Regions from separate parts of the Homo sapiens genome. Here all the other regions are reported to be linked to region 1. Evidence: microRNA targets listed by miRTarBase, many of them from high-throughput screens and not tested one by one. Region 1 holds a microRNA gene; each other region holds the end of a gene's coding sequence.

Region 1 (7,192 bases):
CAGTCATCTCAGAGCCTAGATGCTATAGCCCAAGCCAGACCCTGCGGCCGCTGGCCTTCGCGAGGGTGGAGGTCACACATGGCTGCAGCCCTGGAGGGTCAGCTGGTTGGGAGCTCAGGGAGTCCGGCTCTTGTCTGAATTCTCAGTGCCCATCGCGGTCAGGGCGGAGTAAGTGGAGAGGAAAAGTCTGGTCTATCTATCATGGCTGCAGGGGAGCTGGGCTTTCCTCCTCCCGGCCCCCTCGCTCCTTCAGAAGGCAGCCTCTGGGCAGCCCAGTATGTAGTTGGCAAGGGCACACGGGGAAGGGAATGCCTGTCGCGGAGGCTGGACCCCACCGGGTGAGGTACTGGCATCTGAGCTGGGCCCTGGGTCAGTGCGTCACGCTGCGTCTCCCGCCCCTTCCTGGACGACCTCATCCCCTGCTCGGAGCTCCCACTGTGCGCTCGGCGAGGATGTGTTTCCCTATGCCACATCCTCACCTGTCACTCAGCGTCACCACCCGGCCCTCCACACCGTGCCACATCCTCACCTGTCACTCAGCGTCACCACCCGGCCCTCCACACCGTGCCACATCCTCACGTGTCACTCAGCGTCACCACCCGGCCCTCCACACCGTGCCACATCCTCACCTGTCACTCAGCGTCACCACCCGGCCCTCCACACCGTGCCACATCCTCACCTGTCACTCAGCGTCACCACCCGGCCCTCCACACCGTGCCACATCCTCACCTGTCACTCAGCGTCACCACCCGGCCCTCCACACCGTGCCACATCCTCACCTGTCACTCAGCGTCACCACCCGGCCCTCCACACCGTGCCACATCCTCACCTGTCACTGAGTGTCACCACCCGGCCCTCCACACCACCAGTCCCCCAACAACAGCCTCCCCAGTGGTTCTGCCACAGAGCACGTCAGACCCCTGTGTTCACTCTCCCTCGTTAGGCTGGGGTTCCATGAGGTCACCTGGGGTCCCTGGACCATGCCCAGCACACAGCAGGCACTCAGTACAGGTTTGGAGAGTACAGGGGACACCCGTGGGCATCCAGAGGCTGCCCGCCCCAACCCGTCCAGCAGCCCTGTCCCCAGGACAGGTGGGGTGGCCCTGACAGCAAGGACCCCGCAGGAGTGAGTCACAGCCCCAGCACAGGGACAAGGACCGTGGCTCTCCACAGGCGATGCTCCTACACGGGAGGGGCCTTTGCCCAGGACAATGCTGGCTCTGGAGGCCCTGGCTTTTTCTCCGTTTCCTTTTTCCTTCTGCTTGCTTTGCCTCTGGGGACACAGCCAGGCACAGGGAGCAGATCCAGAAATCAGCTGGGGAGTATTTATGGAGCACCTACTGTATGCCCCAAGCTGTCCTGGGAGAGGACAGAGCTGCCTGCATGTGTGGAGACCCCTCTGCAGACTGGGAGGGCTGCGTGGGGAGATCCTCTGGGCTGGGCACGCACCTCTGACCCTCACCACGTGAGAGGCACTGCACCCCACGTTAGGGGGTGGGGCCCTGGCCAAGGTGATGTCTGGTTCTGGTCGGACGGCCCCTCCCTACTTCCTCTCCTTAGATCTCAGCCCAGACTCTTTCTCTCCTCGCCCCGCCACTATTTTCCACTTACACATTTTTGACAAACACCCACACCTGTGGCTGATTTTCAGGTGCCGTGGGAGCTGACAGGGCCTCCAGCCAGGTCTCAGGCCGGCGGAGCCTGCCTCATCCTGGTCTTGCCAGCAAGACCCACTGTGCAGTGTGGGTGGATGCAGAACACAGGTGCATGCCCCCTAAGGTGTCCTAAGCCCCCTGTAGACATGGTCTCCTGGCACATGAATTTCTGACAATGGGAAATCTGGAAGACCCCAGGTTTCCAGGCTATGCCACAGCCACAGACAGGAGGACCCCCAGAGAACCTGCCACCTCAGCCTCATGGTGTGGAAGGGGAAACTGAGGCCCAGGCCGGCAAGGGGCTTGCTGAAGAGCCCAGAAACCATCCTGGGAGGCAGACCTACTAGACCGCCTTCCGGTTTTACAGATGGGGAGGCTGAGGGTGGGCAAAGGGGTTGGGACTGTCATTCATTAAGATGGTGCCACGTCCCTGGCCCGGCCGGCACTTCAGAAGCTTGGCAGAATGAGGTTCCGGATGGAAGTCAGCGCGGGGAGAGGGTGGAGCGGTGGGGGGCAGCCTGCAGGAGGGTCTGGAGTGGGCCCAGACATGGGGGTGGGAGGCTGGCTGGCCCCAGGGCCGTCCCTGCCGGGTTGTGAAACTCGCTGTTCCCATCTGGGAGTGGCTGCTGGCTGCACTCCTCTCGGGAACTCCTGGGTCCTGGTCCCCAACTGAGGCCACGTGGGTCTGGGCTCTGACGGTTGGCAGGTCATCCAGAGGCCAGCCTGTCCATCCGCCTGTGCCCAGACAGCGAGGCCCCTAAAAGGCGGGCCCTTCCAGAGCCGGTGGTGGTGGTGGCAGAGGTCTCCCGTCCTGGGGCAGGGTCCAGGATGGGAACTACTCCCCCAGGTCAAGGGCAGCCCCTGGAGGAGGCCCTGCCCCCACACAGCAGCTCAGCCAATCCCTGGGCCTCACCCCTGCTCATTTGCATACCCCATTTCCATTGGCTGCCAACAGGCTGGTTAGGACAGTGGTGCCCTGGCCATGGGGGTGGGGCTCTGGGGGGCGGGGCCCTGGGGGTATCAGATTCTGGGTGACTGGTCCCAGCCCCAAGTCTAGGGTCAGAAAGCTGCATGGGGCTGGTGGGGGGCTTCAGTTACAGTGCAGGCTCTCCCCTTTCCTCGAAGGCTCCCTGACATCCATTCAGGGATGACTCTGAGTGGGAAAGATACTGGTCCAAGGTCGTACAGCCAAGAGGCCGGCACAGCTGGGACCTGGCCCCAAGTCCCAACCCCTCTCCAAGGCCGGCCTCTTTTCTCCTGTGGGGGCCTGTTGAGAGCGACTTCTTATTTTTGGCTGCCTTGTTTCAGGGAGGGCTATTTGGGGGCTTTCTTTGCAAAATGATGATGATGATGACTTTCAGAGCACCCCGAGTGCTCAGCTCTCCCTCTAGATCTGGTGGCTCTGTGCGCCGCAGGCAGTGGGCTCGCGGGTGCGTCGGGACGGTGGGCTCGCGGGTGCTTGAGGGGCGGTGGGCTCGCGGGTGCTTGAGGGGCGGTGGGCTCGCGGGTGCGTCAGGGCCTGTGGGCTCGCGGGTGGGTCAGGGGCAGTGGGCTCGCGGGTGCGTGAGGGGCGGTGGGCTCGCAGGTGCGTCAGCGGCCGGTGGGCTCGCGGGTGGGTCGGGGCGGTGGGCTCGCGGGGGCGTGAGGGGCGGTGGGCTCGCGGGTGTGTGAGGGGCGGTGGGGGGCTCGCGGGTGTGCGGGTTGAGAGTGTGTTCTCACTTTTGTTCCTGGCATTAGGGTGGGGTGAGATAAGGGGAAGGGGGGCCGCTCAGCTCGAGCAAGCAGATAGATAACGGCGATAGCACCTCCTCCACCGCACAGCACGCATCGCCCTTTTTTATCAAGTTCTCTTTTCTTCTTTTTCGTTGTAGGGTGGTAGAGTAGAAAACACCCCACCCCCACCTCCCAAAGCCATGGAACTAGGGGGTGGGGGCCTCCCCATCTCAGGTCCCAGCCACAAAGGGCACGGGTCAGCTTAGGGCCCGCTGTGCCCAACACGCCCAGCAGCCAGCCCAGAGCCCGTGACTGGAGGAGGGAGGGGATCCAAGGCAGCTGCGAGGCCCGGGGTCCGGAGGTCCCAGCATGACAGGAGCAGCTGCGCATGTGCCCTGCAAGGCAGGTCTCGCGGTCTACACCATCAGCTCCTTGAAAGGACTCTGAGAGGGCGACTGGCACCCCATTTTATAGGAAAAGGCAGCAAAGCCCAGAGAAGTGAAGTGTCACTGGGGCGGGTGCTGAGCTCCTTCCTCGAGAAGCCCTGGGTGGGCACCGCTGGGAGGGGTGGGGAGACCTCAGGGGGGTTGGCCATGGCCTGCAGGGCAGGCTTAGCGGTGTCGGCCCTATTTGACAGATGAGGAAACTGAGACCTGAGACTCTGGGATGTGTGTGAGAACCAGGGCCATGGGGACAGATGCTGTACCCCCTGCTTGTTTGCTGCGGCTCCTGGTCTGGGTGACTGTGGCAACTATGGGGGACTGACAAGGGGTAGACTCTTGGATCACAGGGACAAATGTTCTGGAGCCACTCTGGCCGCTGTGTGATGGGACGAGGCCCTAGGTGACATCACTGAGGTCATCGGCACACTGTAGCCGTTGGCGGAAAACCGTGCAGGAAGAATGCCAGTAGGATTCAGGGAGGGTGGGCTGCGGGCAGAGAGGGCTTTGGAGAGGTGGCCCCACCCCAGGGACCCTCGCCCCGGCTCGTGTCCCCCCATTAATACCACCGCCGTTTTGGGGTTCACTGAGCCCTGCCGCACAAGGGCCCCAGATGCTTTACCCACTTCTGCCCTAATTCCTCAAAGGCCAAGGAGGCTGGAACTGTGATCATGCCCATGATACAAGTGAGGAAACTGAGAGGCTGCCGGCCAGGGGGCAGGATTTAAACGCTGGTCACTGGAGCTGACATTTACCCCCCTCCCCCACATACACACCCCACTGCACTGGAAATAGCTGACTTCCTTTTAGAATATTGAAACAAAACCAAACCCAAAAGTTAGAAAGAAACCAACTTTCTCACCAAAGGAGCTTATTTTCTGGGGACAGATGAAATGAACCCAAGAAACAAGAATAGAGGCAGGCCAGCCTCCGCCCATCCCCTCCCACTGCCAGGATGGGCTGTGCGGCCCTCAGCCGTCCCCTGCCCTTTCTGTGCTTGGCCTTTCTCCCTGAAAGGTACGGGTGAGCCCCCTGGGAGGCTCGTGGGCTGCCCCCCACTGCAAACACCCCAGAACCTCCAGCCAGGATGGAGACTCTGACCTCGGCTAGACTCTAAGCCAGAAGCCAGGGTCCCTTCTGTTCTCTTCATGCTGTGTGATCTTGGGTGAGTTACTCAACCTCGCTGAGCCTTCAGTTCTCTGAGGAGAATGAGGTCATAGGCGCCCCTCCCAGGGCTGCAGAGTACTCCATGCCAGAACTGCCGGGGCTGGGTAACGGAGCTGTTGTCTAACCACGGCCGCCATCAGGATCACTACAACTGGGGGTCCCAGAACCACCCAGAAATGTCACCATCCACACCGCCCCAGGGATCCTGCCTTTGGGTTCCCAGAGGATCTCATTTCTCAAGAGTCACTCAAAATATAAAATCCAGGAAGGGGGAAATGGCAAGCTGGCCTGCACCCACTGGGAGCCCAGGCGGCTCCACAGGAAGCCTTTCTGCCAGCGAGGGAGCGGCCGGGCCACTGCCTCAAGGAGACATCGTAGCTGCGTGGCCTTGGTTTCCCCCGTGCACGGCGGGCCCCTTGGCACCCTCCACCCCATGGCTGCTTCACCTGTCCCTCCTCCACCCCTATGGCTGCTTCACCTGTCCCTCAGCAGGAGGATTAGCCGCACGCCGGGCTCTAATCGCCGCTAATCGCTCCATCAGCGCCGGATCTCGGATCAGCTGAAGGAGGCGGCTTTATCCAGACAGACGCCGCGATGGCACCTGAGTCCCATCTGGGCGCAGCTGTCAGGTGCAGCAGCAGGGCCAGGGATGGCTGGGGACAGGGTGGGAGCCAAGCCGGGGAGCACACAGGGTTTCTCAATGCAGGCAAGCCCCTCCCCCTCCCCAGCTGGCCAATGGGACTCTGCCTGGGCCCTCCACATTTATTAAGTACCTACTGTATAACCGGGCACTGTTCTAGGCACCAGGGGGACACCAGGGATCCACACAGGCGAAATGCCCACCCTGGGGCATTGCATTGCTGTCAAGGCTGTGAGGAGGGCCCCGTGCTCCCACTCATTTGACAGGTGGGGAAACTGAGGCACAGAGACATGGCCCAAGACAGGCGCAGCCAGCCAGGCCCAGACTTCTGGCTTTTCCTCCACCCTTTGCCCACCACCAGGCTGCTGGGAGGGGCACTTCCCCGACAGAGGGCTTCCCCGCAGGCCTGTGGGCCACGGTTACTAGCTCCCAGCACCAGCCTGTTTCCAGCATTATGACATGTTTCTGCTGTTTGTCTTCTGAGCAGACGCTGCGCCCTGCCTGTGTCTCCCCAGCCCGGGCCCTGCTGTGAGCTAACTCTGCACCTCCGGACACGGGGTCTGTGCAGAGGCCGCTGCGGTGTAGGCCGGATGCTCTGTGGTTCATGGTCTGGCCCAGGGGCCAAAAGAGGCTGGGAGAAACGGCCAAGGGCTCCCACCCACCCCAGGCCCCCATCCTCCTCACCCTCCTCCCTACCTTCTTTTTCAAAAACATAATTTATCTATGTATTATCAAGAAATCCAGACACTTTAATCAGTGAGCTATGAAGTCAGAATTTCCATTCTTATCTTCGGGAGGAGTGGAAATGGACGAGATAGGCAGCGGATCGCTGGTGGGGAATGTTAATGGGTGGAGAGGCTGGGCTATTGGCCACCGAGAAGCTGGTATCTCCTCCATTATCAAGGCTGTATCTCACTCACCATCTTGGCGCAGTAATGGGGCCAGTTCAACTTTCCCAGTTATCGCAGGAGCTGAAACCTGTGCCCGCCAGAGGCCCGGACCAGGAGACAGTGCAGGGCGGACCAGGCCGCAGCCTGTAGAGCTGGAAGGGTATGGGAATGATCGGCTTGAGCCAGGGCCCCAGAGGGCCTGGGTGCCCACCGACCATTGCCATGGCGGGGGTAGGGGGTCTCTCTGCTTTCTGGGAAAATGTTTGGTTTTGGTGGAGCTGGGTGTGGGCCTATGAGCAATGGGGGAAACTGAGGCTGACTGCCTCAAGGTCCCAAGAAGGCTGGGGTAGTCCCAAGCCTTCCTGAGCTGTTCCAGGCCCACGAAGTGGAAAGACGGTAGGTGGTGTTGGGGACAGCAGCAGGACTGAGGTGCAAACACCCCGTCCTCCTGCCTTGGGACTTGCAGGGTGTCCCGTCCCCTCTGGGAGCATATCCAGGGCCCAGGCCTGGAGTCGGGAACTATCAGTCATAAACAGGCAGCCTGGGGGCACCTGGGGGCCCTGCCCCTGTGGGTCTCAACCTTAGGCACGGCTCACATGCCTCGGCCCCTCGGGCCCAGGTGTGCTCAGTGCACCCTTAAATTTTGAGGGGCTGCTCACCTCTCCTCAGGGCCCTTCCTTGAGACGC
Region 2 (7,192 bases), not on the chromosome of region 1:
CACACACACACACACACACATAGTGTGTGTCTCTGTGACTGCCATGTTCTTAAGAAAGCTTGGATGGCCAGGTGCACACACACACACACACACACAATGTGTGTGTGTCTGTGTGACTTCCATGTTCTTAAGAAAGCTTGGATGGCCGGGTGCAGTGGCTCACGCCTGTAATCCCAGCACTTTGGGAGGCCAAGGTGGGCAGATCACCTGAGCTCAGGAGTTTGAGACCAGCCTGGCCAACATGGTGAAACCCCATCTCTACTAAAAAATACAAAAATTAGCTGGGCGTGGTAGCATGAGCCTGTAATCCCAGCTACCCAGGAGGCTGAGGCAGGAGAATCACTGGAACCTGGGAGGCAGAGGCTGCAGTGAGCCAAGATCGCGCCACTGTACTCCAGCCTGGGCAACAGACCAAGACTCCGTCTCAAAAAAAAAGAAAGCTTGGGGGCCGGGCGCAGTGGCTCACACTGTAATCCCAGCCAAGGTGAGTGGATCACTTGAGGTCAGGAGTTCTGAGACGAGCCTGGCCTACATGGTAAAACCCCATCTCTACTAAAAATACAAAAATTAGCCGGGCATGGTGGTGCATGCCTGTAATCCAAGCTACTTGGGAGGATGAGGCAGGACAATCACTTGAACCTGGGAGGTGGAGATTGCAGTGACCAGAGAGCCGAGATTGTGCCACTGCACACTCCAGCCTGGGTGGCAGAGTGAGACTATGTCTCAAAAAAAAAAAAAAAAAGCAAGCTTGGGGCTGTGGCAGTGGTCAGAGACCCTCTGGTAGGTGGCTGGTTGCACCCAGAGACACTGCAGTCCAGAGATACTGCAGTCCAGAGGTGTGTGTGAGGGTAGTTTGCTTCCTCTGCACCCCTCTGGCTGCCTCCCTGGCTCTCTTCCTTGCCCCTTCCGTGCAATAGTTCCCTGTTGAATAGCAACTACCTAGCCCAGGTGTTCAGGACCCAATTTCAGAATCCATCCCACTATTCTCAGGAGCACTTCTGTTCTTGCCTGACCATTCTTGACTGTTTTGGGCTCTGGAAGTGTGATGCCCCCATGGTTGGCCCCACTTCTCTGCTGTTTTCCTCTCATGTTTTGCTGCCAGCTGCCTGGGAGGGGTGGCTGTATCCCTGTCCCACATCAGAAACTGATCCTCAGGACTTGAAGGCCCAGAAGTGGAGAGAGAATGAGACCTGGAGACAAAGGGCATAATTGTTGGGGAAATGGATGACAGCTGAAGCTATTCATATGGAGCCATATACTCTATTGTTGAAATAGAATAAGGAAATAAAATGATACACTCACATACCTGCGCGAGCTCTCCAAAAACACTGTACTACCTTGTCTACCAGGAGCTGGTTTCTCAGCCAGTTGGATAAGGGATTGTTTCAGCAAGGAGACTGATGGCCTCCTCAGGGAAGGAGGGACGGGACAGGATTTGTTCTTGTAACAGCATTCAAGGAGTCAGCTGGGTGCCTCAGCTGTACTCAGAGAACACCAGTCAGGCCATCCTGGGGCTGGCAGGGCAGAGAAAGGCCTAGGGGTTGGGGCTGCTGCGATTCAACAGCTCCCAGAGGCACTTGACCTGCTCCCTCGCCTCACGTGGAGGTGGATAGAGGTAAACTTTCCAGGCAAGGAGGGTCAAATTCTCAGCTTTCCTATCAGAACGAAACTGTCCCAGCCTCAGCCCTTGTCTGGCTAAAGTAGGTCACCTCTGTCCCTTCCCGTACAGCCGTCATCAGAACTGGTGTTTATGCACCCTCGTGGGTAGATCCTGGGAATGCATGTCCAGCTTGGTCCCCGGCATGAGGTCTGCGCTCGACAGTGCCTGCCCTGCGCCTGTTCTGGGGAGCTCAGCCCAGACCGGGCCTCCAGCTCCCTTCCCGCCCGGCAGGGGCCCCGGGCCCGGAGATGGCCACGCCACGCTGCCTTCTCGGGTCTGACTGTCCTGATCCTGCGCAAAAGTGGGGCTGCACTCGGCCTAACGAACGGACGAGGAAGCCCCCGCCGCACTTGGCTTATTAGTTGGTGGACCGGAGGGGCAAGGAGGGGATGCCCGAATCCTGCACTGAGTCTCTGAGGTCCTTAAAGAAGAACAAAAGTGCTAGTCACCGCCCACTAAACTCACGTTGCGATCTAAAGTTTAAAAACTCGGCCACAGACGACGACACAGTTTCAGGGAGGGCGCGCAGAAGGTCGCCCGGCCGACAGGAGCTGGGACCCCAGTTTGCTGATTCACGCCTTAAATTGGGCACAGACCCCACCCACAGATTTAACTTCCTCCAACACAAGCTAAATCCAGGGCCACGTACCCAGGGCCCGCAGGAGGGACAGGACGAGGATGGTGCCCACAGCGCGCTGGAGGCACGCCAGAGCCTGGAGGGGCAGGCAGGGGCGGTGGAGCGGGGCCGGAAGTGAGGCTAGCGGAGCCCCGCAGTGGCGGCTCGCGCTCATTGGCCGGGAGCAGCGCGGTGGGCGGGACGGAGCTCGGCGGTCTGCGCTCGGTTGCTAGCCGTTTGCTCCCGCTTTCAGTTGCTTTGCTGTTAGCCTGTTGGACCTTCGAGCCTAGCTGCTCGCACAGGACTCGGCCACCTGCCCTTCCTGCACCGACTGGCCAGGTAGGTGGCTGTAGGGGCCGCGGGCTGCAGGTTCCCGGGAAGGATAATGAGAGAACCGAGGGCCTCGAACCGGCTGCAGGTGGTGGGGAGGGAGTTTCGTGGACCTGGACGCCTCTGTTCCTTGAGAAGGCTCGCTCCCTCCTCCGGGAGCTCCGAAGGCTCGGGGTCAACCACCTGGGCCCCCGACCCCGGTAGCTGGCTCAAGGCCCGCCACTACCTGGTACCTCTGCAGGAGTTCAGAGCCTCATGCTGAGCCAGGAGGAGCTCCGGGTGACGCATACGGCAGGATCGGGATTGAGAGGCTGAAAAAGTGAGTTTAACAGTAGAGAAAGCAGGACCTGTCCCGCAGGCTGCTGTTCTGGCTTTTCTTTCCCACTACCTGCTTCAGTCATTGCCAGCTGTCTGGTATTCTCCTTGGCCCCTAAAGTTTTGCCCTAGCCTGGTTCTGGTTCCCTTGAGTTTGGAGCAGGAGGTGGAATGTGGAGGGTCCTGGGTGAACTTGGACTATTCCTTCTCTAGGTTTCACTTATCTCGTCTGCTTGGGGGTAGGGGGTTCTCCGGATGATCTCTGCAGCCCCTCACTGTCTGTAACTGAGCATCTCTCCCCTGGGGCAGGTGTCCTGGTAGTTCAGTAGCCAGCTCTGATCTCAGGTAGCCTGTGCTCATTTACAAAGAGTCAGAAGACAGAGCACTGGACTTAGAGCCAAACAGACACTTGGTTCAGCCTGGGAATAGCTGTGTGACTTTGGGCAGTCACCTCATTTTTCTGTGCCTTGATTTCACATTGGTAACATTGGGGAGTTGTAATCTGAGTGTGAGACCTCTCCTGACCACTTTATGTAATCTTGTACCTGACCGACACCCTCTCATCCCTCTGTGCTTATTTTACAAGTTTATTGATCAACTCTTATCCCTACTAGAGACAAGTACCATGAGTGCAGAGATTTTTGCTTATTTATTGCTGTATTCCCGCCTCTAGAACAGTGCCTAGAGTGTGGTAGGTACTGTCAACCTAAATAGCAGAGTGAGAGACTCTAAAAAAATGATGTTTACTTGGGAATAGACATTGTAGTGACAATATGTGTGCCATAGTAACCTGTGTACGTATTTGGGGAGGTAAAGGAAGACAAAGGTTTTGAAAAGGAAAAATGAGGATTACATGATTATTTTGAGATAGTTATCCTTGGCTACAAGGATGAATAGCAAGAGTGGTGCTAGTCTGAGGTTGGACAGGCAGTTGCAGGGCAGATGTCCTCACAGAAAGATTTTTCTGTGTAAGTTTGCAGTGGCCTTTGTGCAGGGTTGTGGTTTTTGCATTTTTTGTGATCTTGTTATCAGTCATTTGTGCATAAGAACCCTCTTTTCACAACCTTCCTCGGTTTTATTTGTCAGAGTTGTTGTTCTTGTTTTTTCCCATTGGAGAATCATGCTTTAAATTTGTCAGAGTTTTTAACACAAACGACTCTGTTTTGATTCTAACAACTTTCATATTTCCCCCTTTTGGTCAAGATCTTTCTCCAAAAACTTTACTGATCAGTCATCCTGTAGTTAGGTCCCTCAGTGCTGGGACGGACCTATCTTGGGTTGTTGGTCTCTTGCCATGTTGGAGACTAGGAGTCTCCAGTTGGAGACTGGTGACTAGGAGTCAGTGTCAAAACCCTTGTAGTGGTTGGGAGCAGGGGCTCACGTCTGTAATCCCAGTACTTTGGGAGGTCAAGGAGGGAGTATCACTTGAGTCCAGAAGTTCAAGACCAGCCTGGGCAACCGCCAAGGCGGGCGGATCACCTGAGGTTGAGAGTTCGAGACCAGCCTGACCAACATGAAGAAACCCGTCTCTACTAAAATACAAAAATATATATAAATAACATCCGGGCGCGGTGGCTCACACCTGTAATCCCAGCGCTTTGGGAGGCCGAGGCAGGCGGATCATGAGGTGAGGAGATCGAGACCATCCTGGCTAACACGGTGAAACCCCATCTCAACTAAAAATACAAAAAATTAGCCGGGCGTGGTGGCAGGTGCCTGTAGTCCCAGCTACTTGGGAGGCTGAGGCAGGAGAATGGCGTGAACCCAGGAGGCAGAGCTTGCAGTGAACCGAGATCGCACCACTGCACTCCAGCCTGGGCGACAGAGCAAGACTCTGTCTCAAAAAAATAAAAAATAAAAAAATAAAAAATAAATAAAATAAAATACAAAAATTAGCCGGGCGTGGTGGCACATGCCTGTAATCCCAGCTACTAGGGAGGCTGAGGCAGGAGAATCGCTTGAACCTGGGAAGTGGAGGTTGCGGTGAGCCGAGATCGCACCATTGCACTCCAGCCTGGGCAACAAGAGCGAAACTCCGTCTCAAAAAAAAAAAGTTATCTGGGCATTGGTTGGGGAGTGTGCGGGAGTCAGTTGGGTAGAGGATCACTTAAGCCCAGGAGTTTCAGGTTATAGGGAGCTATGATTGTACCGCTGCACTCCAGCGTGGGTGACAGAGCGAGACCCTGCCTCAAAAAACCCCAAATACCTTTTAGCCACATTTGAGCAGCAAGGGAGGTTTGGAAGGAGTGGCTCTCAAGGTATGTCTACCTGGAGTTCATTGTTAAGTTCAATTTTGGCTGTTCCATAGGCATTTGCTGTCATTGCAAACTTCTGGGCCAGCATTATTCTGTCAGGAGTGATACTTCAACAAAAATTTAAAAAGTAATAGGTATAAAGTTTAAAAAGAAAATAGGGCTGGGCACGATAGCTCACCCCTGTAATCCTGGCACTTTGGGAGGCCAAGATGGCCAGATTGCTTGAACCCAGGAGTTCGAGACCAGCCTGGCCAAGATCATGAAACCTCGTCTCTACAAAAAATACAAAAATTAGCCAGGCATGGTGATGCACACCTGTAATCCCAGCTACTCGGGAGGCTGAGGCAGGAGAATCACTTGAACCCGGGAGGCAGAGGTTACAGTGAGCCAAGATGGTGCCACTGCACTCCAGCTCGGGCTACAGAGTGAGACTCTGTCTCCAAAAATAATGTAAAATAAATAAATAGGAAAATAGGAAGTAATAGCAATGTGATAATCTCAGTTTGCATAATAGTTCTGAGAGGCCCACCGTGGTGGCTCACGCCTGTAATCCCAGCACTTTGGGAGGCTGAGACGGGCGGATCACGAGGGCAGGAGATGGAGACCATCCTGGCTAACATGGTGAAACCCCGTCTCTACAAAAAATACAAAAAAAATTACCCGGGCGTGGTGGCGGGCACCTGTAGTCCTAGTTACTCGGGAGGCTGAGGCAGGAAAATGGCGTGAACCTGGAAGGTGGAGCTTTCATTGAGCCGAGATTGCACCACTGCACTCCAGCCTGGACGACAGAGCCAGACTCCTACTCAAAAAAAAAGAAACGAGTAAGAGTCTCAAAATGATATGGAATCTTGTTCCAGTGTCTTCGGAAAAGCTATCTACAGTATGAAACCATCAACTTCTTATCCTGGTTTGCAGTTTGAATGTCTCTGGTTATGGCATTGGGATGTTTGGTGAACTTCCTGTGTGACCCATACATTAGGCACAAGGCTTGTACCTTAAAGTTCATCTAGTTTCAACTTACAGGGCTTCAGGAACAGAGCAGTGCCAATTTTTAATAATTTCATGAAAGAAAGTTAGATTGGAGGAATCTAGAATTCAGGAGCTAGTCCAGTATACAAGTAGATAATGAGAACTCAAAAACAATGCACAGGGCTGCAGTCTAATAACAGATGTACTATAGCTTTTTTTAGAAACAAAATTTTCTCTTTACAGTGATCACATAGGAATAACAGATTTAAAAACCATTTAAGGCTAGGAAGCAAAACCAAGGCAGACTTTAGATTTTACTTAACAGTCTTAAGGTTCCTGGGCCTGCCAGGAAGTGACAGATTTTACTCATTCACTGTAAGGCTGGGAATCTTTGAAGGCAGGCTTTCTATGTACATTCTCAAGTATGATATTCTAGTTAAAGCCCTGGTAATATAAGCAATATTTGTTGTATTCTGTTATAAGAGAGAACAGGCTGGGCACAGTGGCTCACGCCTGTAATCTCAGTACATTGGGAGCCCAAAGTGGGCAGATCGCTTAAGGCCAGGAGTTCGAGACCAGCCTGGCCAACATGGTGAAACGCTGTCTCTACTAAAAATACAAAAATTAGTCAGACATGGTAGTGCTCGCCTGTGATCCCAGTTACTGGGGAGGCTGAGGCGCAAGAATCACTTGAACCTGGGAGGTGGAGGTTGCAAGATCTGAGATCGTGCCACTGCACTCCAGCCTGAGCAACAGAGTGAGACTCTGTCTCAAAATAAAAAAAAAAGAGAGAGAGCAAAGTCTTACTGGACTTTTGCAAATAACCACATTGCCGTAAGAATACTCATGAATAGACCAGCATGGTGGCTCACGCCTGTAATCCTTTCACTGTGGGAGGCCATGGCAGCCTGATCACTTGAACCCAGGAGTTCAAGATCAACCTGGGAAACATGCCCAAACCCCATCTCTACTAAAAAATACAAAAATTAGCTGGGTGTGGTGGTGCATGCCTGTACTCCCAGGCCCTTGGGAGACTGAGGAAGGAGA
Region 3 (7,192 bases), not on the chromosome of region 1:
CCCATCACATATGGGTTTCTTGAGCCTGTTTCTTCCTCTGTGGAATGGAGGTTGTGCAGGTGGTTTCAGATGCTCCTCCTAACCAGGTGCTCTGGGCACTGTGGCTGCAGGTGGAGGTACTCAGGAGCATGAGGCACGCTGTGCAAATAGGACTGACTGAGGAGCCTTAAGACCATCCTGGGGATTATGAAGCATCACTCCTTTCTCACACAAGTCCTGACGTGGTTTCCCAGCTTCTGGAATGGGTTTTGCCCAGGGACCCATGCACCTCACCTAGAGAGGATGTGAGGTCTGGGTACAGCAGTTCTACTGAAAAGAGCACTGACCTGGGTTCCAATCACGGTTCTGCCACCCCAGGGGGTAGGTGCAGCATCTCAACTAATGCCACTAGCTGTGTTTACCTTGGGGTTGTCAGGGGTACTACATGCGATGAGGAGAAGCCTAGCACGCTGTGTGCACCTGATAAATGCTTGTTTCCTGCACTGGGGGATATTCCAAGGTTCCTCTCTTGTCCTTGAGTCCCACCCTTATCTACCCATATGACTTTAGTAACAATTGCAGCAAGCACCCACCGAGCCCCAACTCTCTGTTAATAAGACACATTATTTGGTTGGATCTTGCAAGAATCCTGCAGGTAGGGGTGATGCTCATTTTGTGGATGAGGAAGGCCACACACTGAGAAAGGGAGGGCTGTGAGTAACCACGCTTGACTGAGTCTGAGACTCCTGCTTGACCCTGAGCAAATTACTGGACCTTCCCAATCCTTCCTTTTCTGGTACAGGAAATGGGGATAACACCTCATTATGGTTATGGTTTGAAGATATAATGTATGCTATAAAGGTGCTGCATTTTTAAAGATAACATGAAACACATCTAAGTGACCCATGGGGGCAAAGGAATGGAGTGGATACTGGGGGTAAAATCAACGAAAACTTCGAATCAGAGTTCATGCATGCATTAATCATAATGTGCCATTAACCAAGAGGACTGACTGGCTCAATTCTTTGTACTCGATATTCACGTAAAGGAAAAAGACATAGTCCATGTGAGCTTCTCTCACTTTAAGTTTACACAAATCTCATGGAGAACTTGTTAAAATGCAGATTCTCATTCAATGTCTGGGGTGGGGCTTGAGATTCTGCATGTGTAACAGGTTCCCAGGTGATGCTGCTGTTGCTGGTGGTCTGAGTAACAAGGAGGTAGGTCTTCCCCTCCCTTCTCAGTTCTCAAACTTGCATGATCATAGGACTCACAAAAGGAACTTGTCAAAAATGGATCTGAAGGCCGTTCCCTTGAGATCTAGATTGGGGCCCAGCATGTACTAATGTGTACTTAGAGCAAGCATCTCAGGAGATGGTTAGGCTCAGGCATGCAAGGCTGTGGTACCCATTTATATCATGGTCCATGGCGTAGACAACACAGAAGATTGGCTCACTAGACCTCTGTCCCAGTGCACCTTCCAGGAAAGGTGGGAAGAGGGAATAAAGACATCTCCCCAATATTCCATGCCAGTACCATTTGAGAGGCCATGTAGGTTCCAACAACCAGACGCATTCAATTGAGCCTTGAACTTGGATGAGCTAGCTGAGTGGTGTCCAGATGGCAGTGTGAAGGACATCTACTTTTTGGTGCAGATATAGGCAGCTGCTGTGTGGCTCTGGAGTTCCTAATCCCCAGATTGTAGCAATGATGATGTGATCCTGCTGCTCTCTGGACCATTACCTTTTTGGTTACAAAAGGTAAATTTCTGTTTACTGCAGCTGAATCCCAGGACTAATGCGTCAGCAGCATCCTCTCACTACCTTGTCCCTCTAAACCCACTGTGACTCTCACAACATCCACCTTAGGTGGCTCATCTGGAACGCAGCTGTTCAAATGGGCATCCAGTGACCTCTATTGCACTGCACCATCAGCCTCACGTTCCTCCAAGCAAGGGCTGGGCCTTCCACTTCGCACCTCCCATGGGCACTACCACTCGTGAGGTGTTCAAACCTCCTGTCATTGTTGCTGGGTCTGTCCTCAGTCAGCTAGGCCTTGCCACCCCTCACTGCCTACCATCCTACCTGCCACCCTTGCCTTTTGACCCACCCTCCAGGACAGATTCAGGGCCAAGTACGGCCGCAGTGACTTGGTCCATGTGTCCTGGGGTTAATGCAGTGACGCATTAGTCCTGGGGTTCAGATGCAGTAAACAGAAATTTACCTTTTGTAACCAAAAAGGTTACGGTCCAGAGAGCAGCAGGATCACATCATCATTGCTACAATCTGGGGATTAGGAACTCCAGAGCCACACAGCAGCTGCCTGTATCTGTGCCTTGTGGTATCCCAAGGGCAATAAAGGGCTGGGGACTTGGATGTCTGTCCTTGAATATCTCCTTTGGTGCAAAAAGTCAATAGTGGTTTATACACATGCAAGTTTTATGACAGAAACAGCTGGGGATATACATGTGGGGAATCTTCCCTTGCCCTGGTGGTGCCTTATTGGAAATGTACAGAAGTAGACAAATTTAGGTGACAAAGAATACTAACTGCTCCATAGATTCTAATATTCCTCCTGTGAAGAGAGGCATGGATCATTAATAGAATGTTATTAACAACAGTAGAAAGGGAGGCCATAGGAGAAACTAGGTTCCAAAGAGTGAGGCTGCGTGGAACTTGCTACCTATTTTCTAACTACATGTCAACAACCACTGACCATCCAGCACAGGAACACCATCGCCACTGTGAGCACAATACATTCTTGGAGTTTCAGTCTCAAGAGACTCATGACTTCACAACGGAGGTTGACAGACACTTATGACTGAGGAGATGAATGCAGTAAGAAACACTGCTAACTCTAAGAATTGGGGAAGAGACAAGCCAAGGAAGAGGAGGTGTGATGTGGGGGCTGCTGGTACATCATAGAAATGGTCCGAAATGGTCTATGGCACTTCACCACCAAAAGACAATTTAGAACCAGATCTTTATTCTACTTGTAATTCACTGGATAAACAAAGAAATTTCAAACCAAACCAAAGTGATGATCTGAATCTCATTAGACCTGAAGGTCATGAGAACTTTCTCTAGAGACAAAACCTGCCCTGTATCACATCCAGCCTAGAACCATCCCCAAAAGTCAAATCAACTGCTCTGCAGCTCACCAGCCATGTTCATCCCAAGGTGGTGATTATCAAAACCACAGATTGCTCCCCAAGGGGGACTGACTCTGGTCTCTGCCTTGCTTGGTGTAGGTCAAAATTCTTTTTTAAAAAATGGAAGAGAAGACCACAATGAGATGCTACTTCACGCTAACTAGGATGGCCATAAGCATGAAAAATAACAAGAGTTGGTGAAGATGTGGGGAAACTGGAACCCTCATAAATTACCAGTGGAAATGTAAAATGGTGCAGCTTCCGTGGAAAACAGTCTGACAATTCCTCACAAAGTAGAATATAGAGCTACCATGTGAACCAGCAATTCCACTCCTTGGTATATACCCAAATGAACTGAAAACATCTGAAACTCAAACAACTGAAAACTCAAAAACTGGTACACAAATGTTCTTGGCTGCATTACTCATAATAGCCTTTTTGTAGAAACAACCCAACTGTCCATCAACTGATAAAAGGATAAGCAAAATGTGATATATCCATACCATGGATACATGCTACAGCATGAATGAATCTTGAAAACATCACATGAAATGAAAGAAGCCAGACACAAAAGGCCATAATACTGAGTGATTCCACTTATGAGAACTGTCCAGAAAAAAAAAAAAAATCTTTAGAGACAGATGTTAGTGGTTGCCTGGGGCTGGGAGCAAGGGAATGGGGAGTCATGCCAATGGGTGTGTGGTTTCTTTTTGAGGTGGTGAAAATGTTCAGGAATTAGAAATGGTGGTGGATGTGCAACACTGTGAACATACTAAATCCACTGAATTGTATACTTTAAACAGGTATGTAAATTATGGGTATGTAAATTATATCTCAATAAAGCTGCTATTTAAAAAAGGAGGAACAGGTCACTTAGTGCTGATGTTTATTGTTAAGGCTCCAATCTTTTGGGTTCTACAAAATATACACCTGAAACACTCCAACTTGCTCCTTGATGATTACTCATGACTGGAAGGAGGGAAGTGGCCCAGATCAAAATAAGCACCATAAGCTTGACCAGGAAGTTCCTAAAGGCTCTATTCACTTCCTCCCATAGAACACCTAAGACAATGACTGTGTTTCTCAGTGTCCTTGATGCAAGGAAACTCACAAAAAAAATGGCCAATTCTGAAGGTGAATCACAATTTTGTTTTCAGAAAACAGAATTTTGTATATAACTATCTTTTCGGACTTTGCTGCTAGAAAATCTAAGTGGCAAATTTATTGTTTAAATTTTATCTTTTCCTCACATCAAGGTCCTAAAAGTTATCTACCTTCCCTGCTTCTATCTGATGGTCTCTATCATCCTTTAAATACTTCCTTTTATAATAAAGGATGTCTTTATGAGCAAACTGCTCTAAGTCCTTTTGGTTGCAAGAATGGTCCAATTCCAAAACAAAGACTAACACTCCTCCCATTTGCCATCTCTCAAAGGTTATGAGTAATGATTGAATCTGCACCTCTGCCTGATCTCTGGGTCTTTCTCCAAAGCAGAGATGTTCTAAAGGTTTCAAGGTGGTTGGCTTCCCTGACTCTGGGGTGTTTTACTAAATCACTGCTTGCCATGGGGACTGACAGAAATACCCAGGGAGCCACGCATGCTAGCCTCCCCACCCAGGCCCAGCTTCCATCTGAGACTGACCCTGGGCCTAGGCATCAGTTTAGTTTTCATCTACCTGTTCTCAGGCTAAGCAGATAGGCAATCTGAGGCTACAGAAAACAGCCTGGCAGATACCTCAGAAGAGCTACAGTAGCTTGCTTACCTACAGGTAAATAATAGGTCCTAATTTAGGGGAAGGAATCCAGGGAGCTGAGAAATGAAAGGATCCACATATGGTTGAAATGCTAGCTGCAGAGCGGAAGTGACTACCGCCTTGATCTCGTGCCTCTTAGCCTGGTGCTCTATCGTGCTCTTTCCACTCCAGAACAGGGCTCATCACTGCCCGCGTCTGTCAGGCCTCGGGCTGAAAAGGATCCGGAGAACACCAAAGGTCAGGTGGGCCAGGACACAAGGTGCAGGGCTCCCTGCTCCTCCCGAAGTTCAACACCACACTCAGAGGCAGCCCATGCTCCTGTGCTCTGTCTGGGCCCCATGGGGTCCAAAAACCACAGAGTTAGGCAAGAACCACACAAGGTTCAAGGGAAGTATGGCCTTGAACCATCATTCTTTTCCTCTGCCCCAGTTTATAGGGGTTACCAAACACAGAATGAGACATCAAAATGCTTTAGAGCAGGAAAGCCACCTCCAATTTCATAGGCTTGGCACAAGGCCCTAAGAGGAGAAGGAACTTGCTTAGGGTCATTCACTAAGTTAGTGGCAAAAATAAGATTAGCCTTCAGGTCTGCTCTGTTTTTTCCTTGGCTTTTTGACTACTGCTGCCCATGCACAGATGGACCTACAAAACTGGCCCAGACAGGAATAGCTGGAGGATTTTGCCTCATCAGAATGATGCAGTCTTTCCACAATGTTCCTGCCCTTGTGAAAGTCATTCTTGTGGCCTATGGGATTTCCAGTCACTCATTTCCATTCATGCAGCCAGAAGGGGACCCATCTTAGTGATGTCAGGAGCAATGGCAATTAATAAACGGAAGGTGCCTGAGAAGCAAGAATGGGCCCTGGGCAGGAAAAAGAGTCATTCAGCCCTACAGAAACTCAAACTCTAAAGTCTCATAAATGGAAGCAGCTATGCATTAATGTAAAAAGAAAAGTGGGAAACCGGCAACATGAATTCTGTATTGACATTTGGTTCTTAATAATAACATCCAAAATGCGTTCTGTTCTTATAGCACTGCATCTGGTCGAGGATATATGTTGCTGAAGGTTGCCGGAGTCTCCCTTGGGAAGTGGAGAGGAGCTGGTGGTGAAAGGGGAGGAGCTGATGGTGAAAGAGACACACTGATTTCTCTTTGGGAGCTATCTGCAGCTAGGTGGAGAGCTGCAGCAGGTGTCTTGGCTCTGATAAGGGGTGGGGAGGCTATCCCAGCCGGTCTGCAAACACATGAGCAGAATCCCTTGCCCCCAGCCTGCAAGAACATGGTTGCTGATGGGGACAGCGGTGGCAGCTCCAGGAGAATGGAGGGAAGCCTGGGATGTTACATTCTTGAGGCCTTCACAGGTACATGTCATCGTAGCCCGGCGGGGGGAGATGGTCTGGGTTAGGTCTGGAATGGAAAGAGGGGCTGATGAGTTGGAGTGATGGAGAGACCAGGGGAACATGGGCAGACATGACCCTGCACTGAGGGAGCCTGCCCTTCAACATGATGTGGCGGTGTGAGGAATTTAAACACATGCACTCAAGAGCCAGACAACCGGGGTTTGAATCCTGACTCCCCCGCTTGGTATAAGTTACCTAATCTTTCAGGGCCTCATTTTCTGCATCTATAAAATGTAGACGCCACCATCTACCCAAGACTGCTGAAGAAAGGATCCACTGAGTTTCTGCCACATACTTAACTTTCAAGAATTGTTAGTTCCTCCTACTTTGAGTCCTCCCCAGAGTGGAGCTGGGGAAAGAGAGGCACTGAGGGATAGGAAGCTCCTAGAAGGCTCCAGGGAGAAATCAGGCAGGGCCCTGGAGGAGGCTCCACTCTCCTGGCAGCAACAGGTGAAGGCAGCGGCAGCTCTGTGCCTGGGGCTAGAAACCTTCATTGCTGCCACACTGAACCAAGCTGCCATCAGGTCCTACTTCTCAGCATACCTGAGTGACTACGTACCCGGGTGGGCTGGTCCCAATGGGTCCAAAGGGGTCAAAGCGAGCTCCTGGGGGCACAGCGCCTGGAGGAAGTCGGTTCGGGAGGCCTGAGGAAGGGTCAATAAGTGCTCTTGGGAAGCCAGATCTCAGGGGATCCACAATCATGCCACCTCTCCGAGGCCTGAGGCAAGAAGAAAAGTTAGGTAAGCAGGTGTGGCAAGGACTGCCCTTGGAGAAAAGGCGAGGGAGGTTACAATGCACCAAGAATGGCTGGGATGTCTACTCTGGATGGCCCAAGCAGACATGTGGATGGCTGCCTGAGAGCCAGCGGAAAGTGGGCAAGGGCAAGAACACAAAGCCTATACGAAGA

Evidence for each region. Region 1 holds the annotated microRNA hsa-miR-5189-5p (UCUGGGCACAGGCGGAUGGACAGG, at 2,378-2,401, opposite strand). A microRNA usually pairs through its seed, bases 2 to 8, with sites in the 3' UTR of a target mRNA and lowers its output. Matches are read on the target gene's strand: a 7mer-m8 pairs with bases 2 to 8, a 7mer-A1 pairs with bases 2 to 7 and ends in A, and an 8mer does both.
Region 2: miRTarBase lists MEI1 as a target of hsa-miR-5189-5p. Seed matches in the 3' UTR shown: 7mer-A1 at 1,165-1,171.
Region 3: miRTarBase lists PSMF1 as a target of hsa-miR-5189-5p. Seed matches in the 3' UTR shown: 7mer-m8 at 5,747-5,753, 7mer-A1 at 5,213-5,219 and 8mer at 91-98.

What each region holds. Positions count from the first base shown.
Region 1 is chr16:88,464,152-88,471,343 of GRCh38, reverse strand. It overlaps MIR5189 (microRNA 5189), which reads right to left and starts at 2,426; the gene lies at 2,313-2,426. The region is part of intron 1 of ZFPM1 (zinc finger protein, FOG family member 1); the gene reads right to left.
Region 2 is chr22:41,798,152-41,805,343 of GRCh38, forward strand. It overlaps MEI1 (meiotic double-stranded break formation protein 1), which reads left to right. Exons shown (of 31, transcript NM_152513.4): 31 at 1,103-1,303. The coding sequence ends at 1,148. CCDC134 (coiled-coil domain containing 134) reads left to right here and starts at 2,528. Exons shown (of 7, transcript NM_024821.5): 1 at 2,528-2,615. RefSeq lists enhancers at 1,349-2,335, 2,111-2,190, 2,261-2,340 and silencers at 1,811-1,900, 2,491-2,550.
Region 3 is chr20:1,164,129-1,171,320 of GRCh38, reverse strand. It overlaps PSMF1 (proteasome inhibitor subunit 1), which reads right to left. Exons shown (of 7, transcript NM_006814.5): 6 at 6,845-7,003; 7 at 1-6,292. The coding sequence ends at 6,241. Among named protein-coding and RNA genes, the nearest start is that of TMEM74B, 17 kb to the left of the region's middle.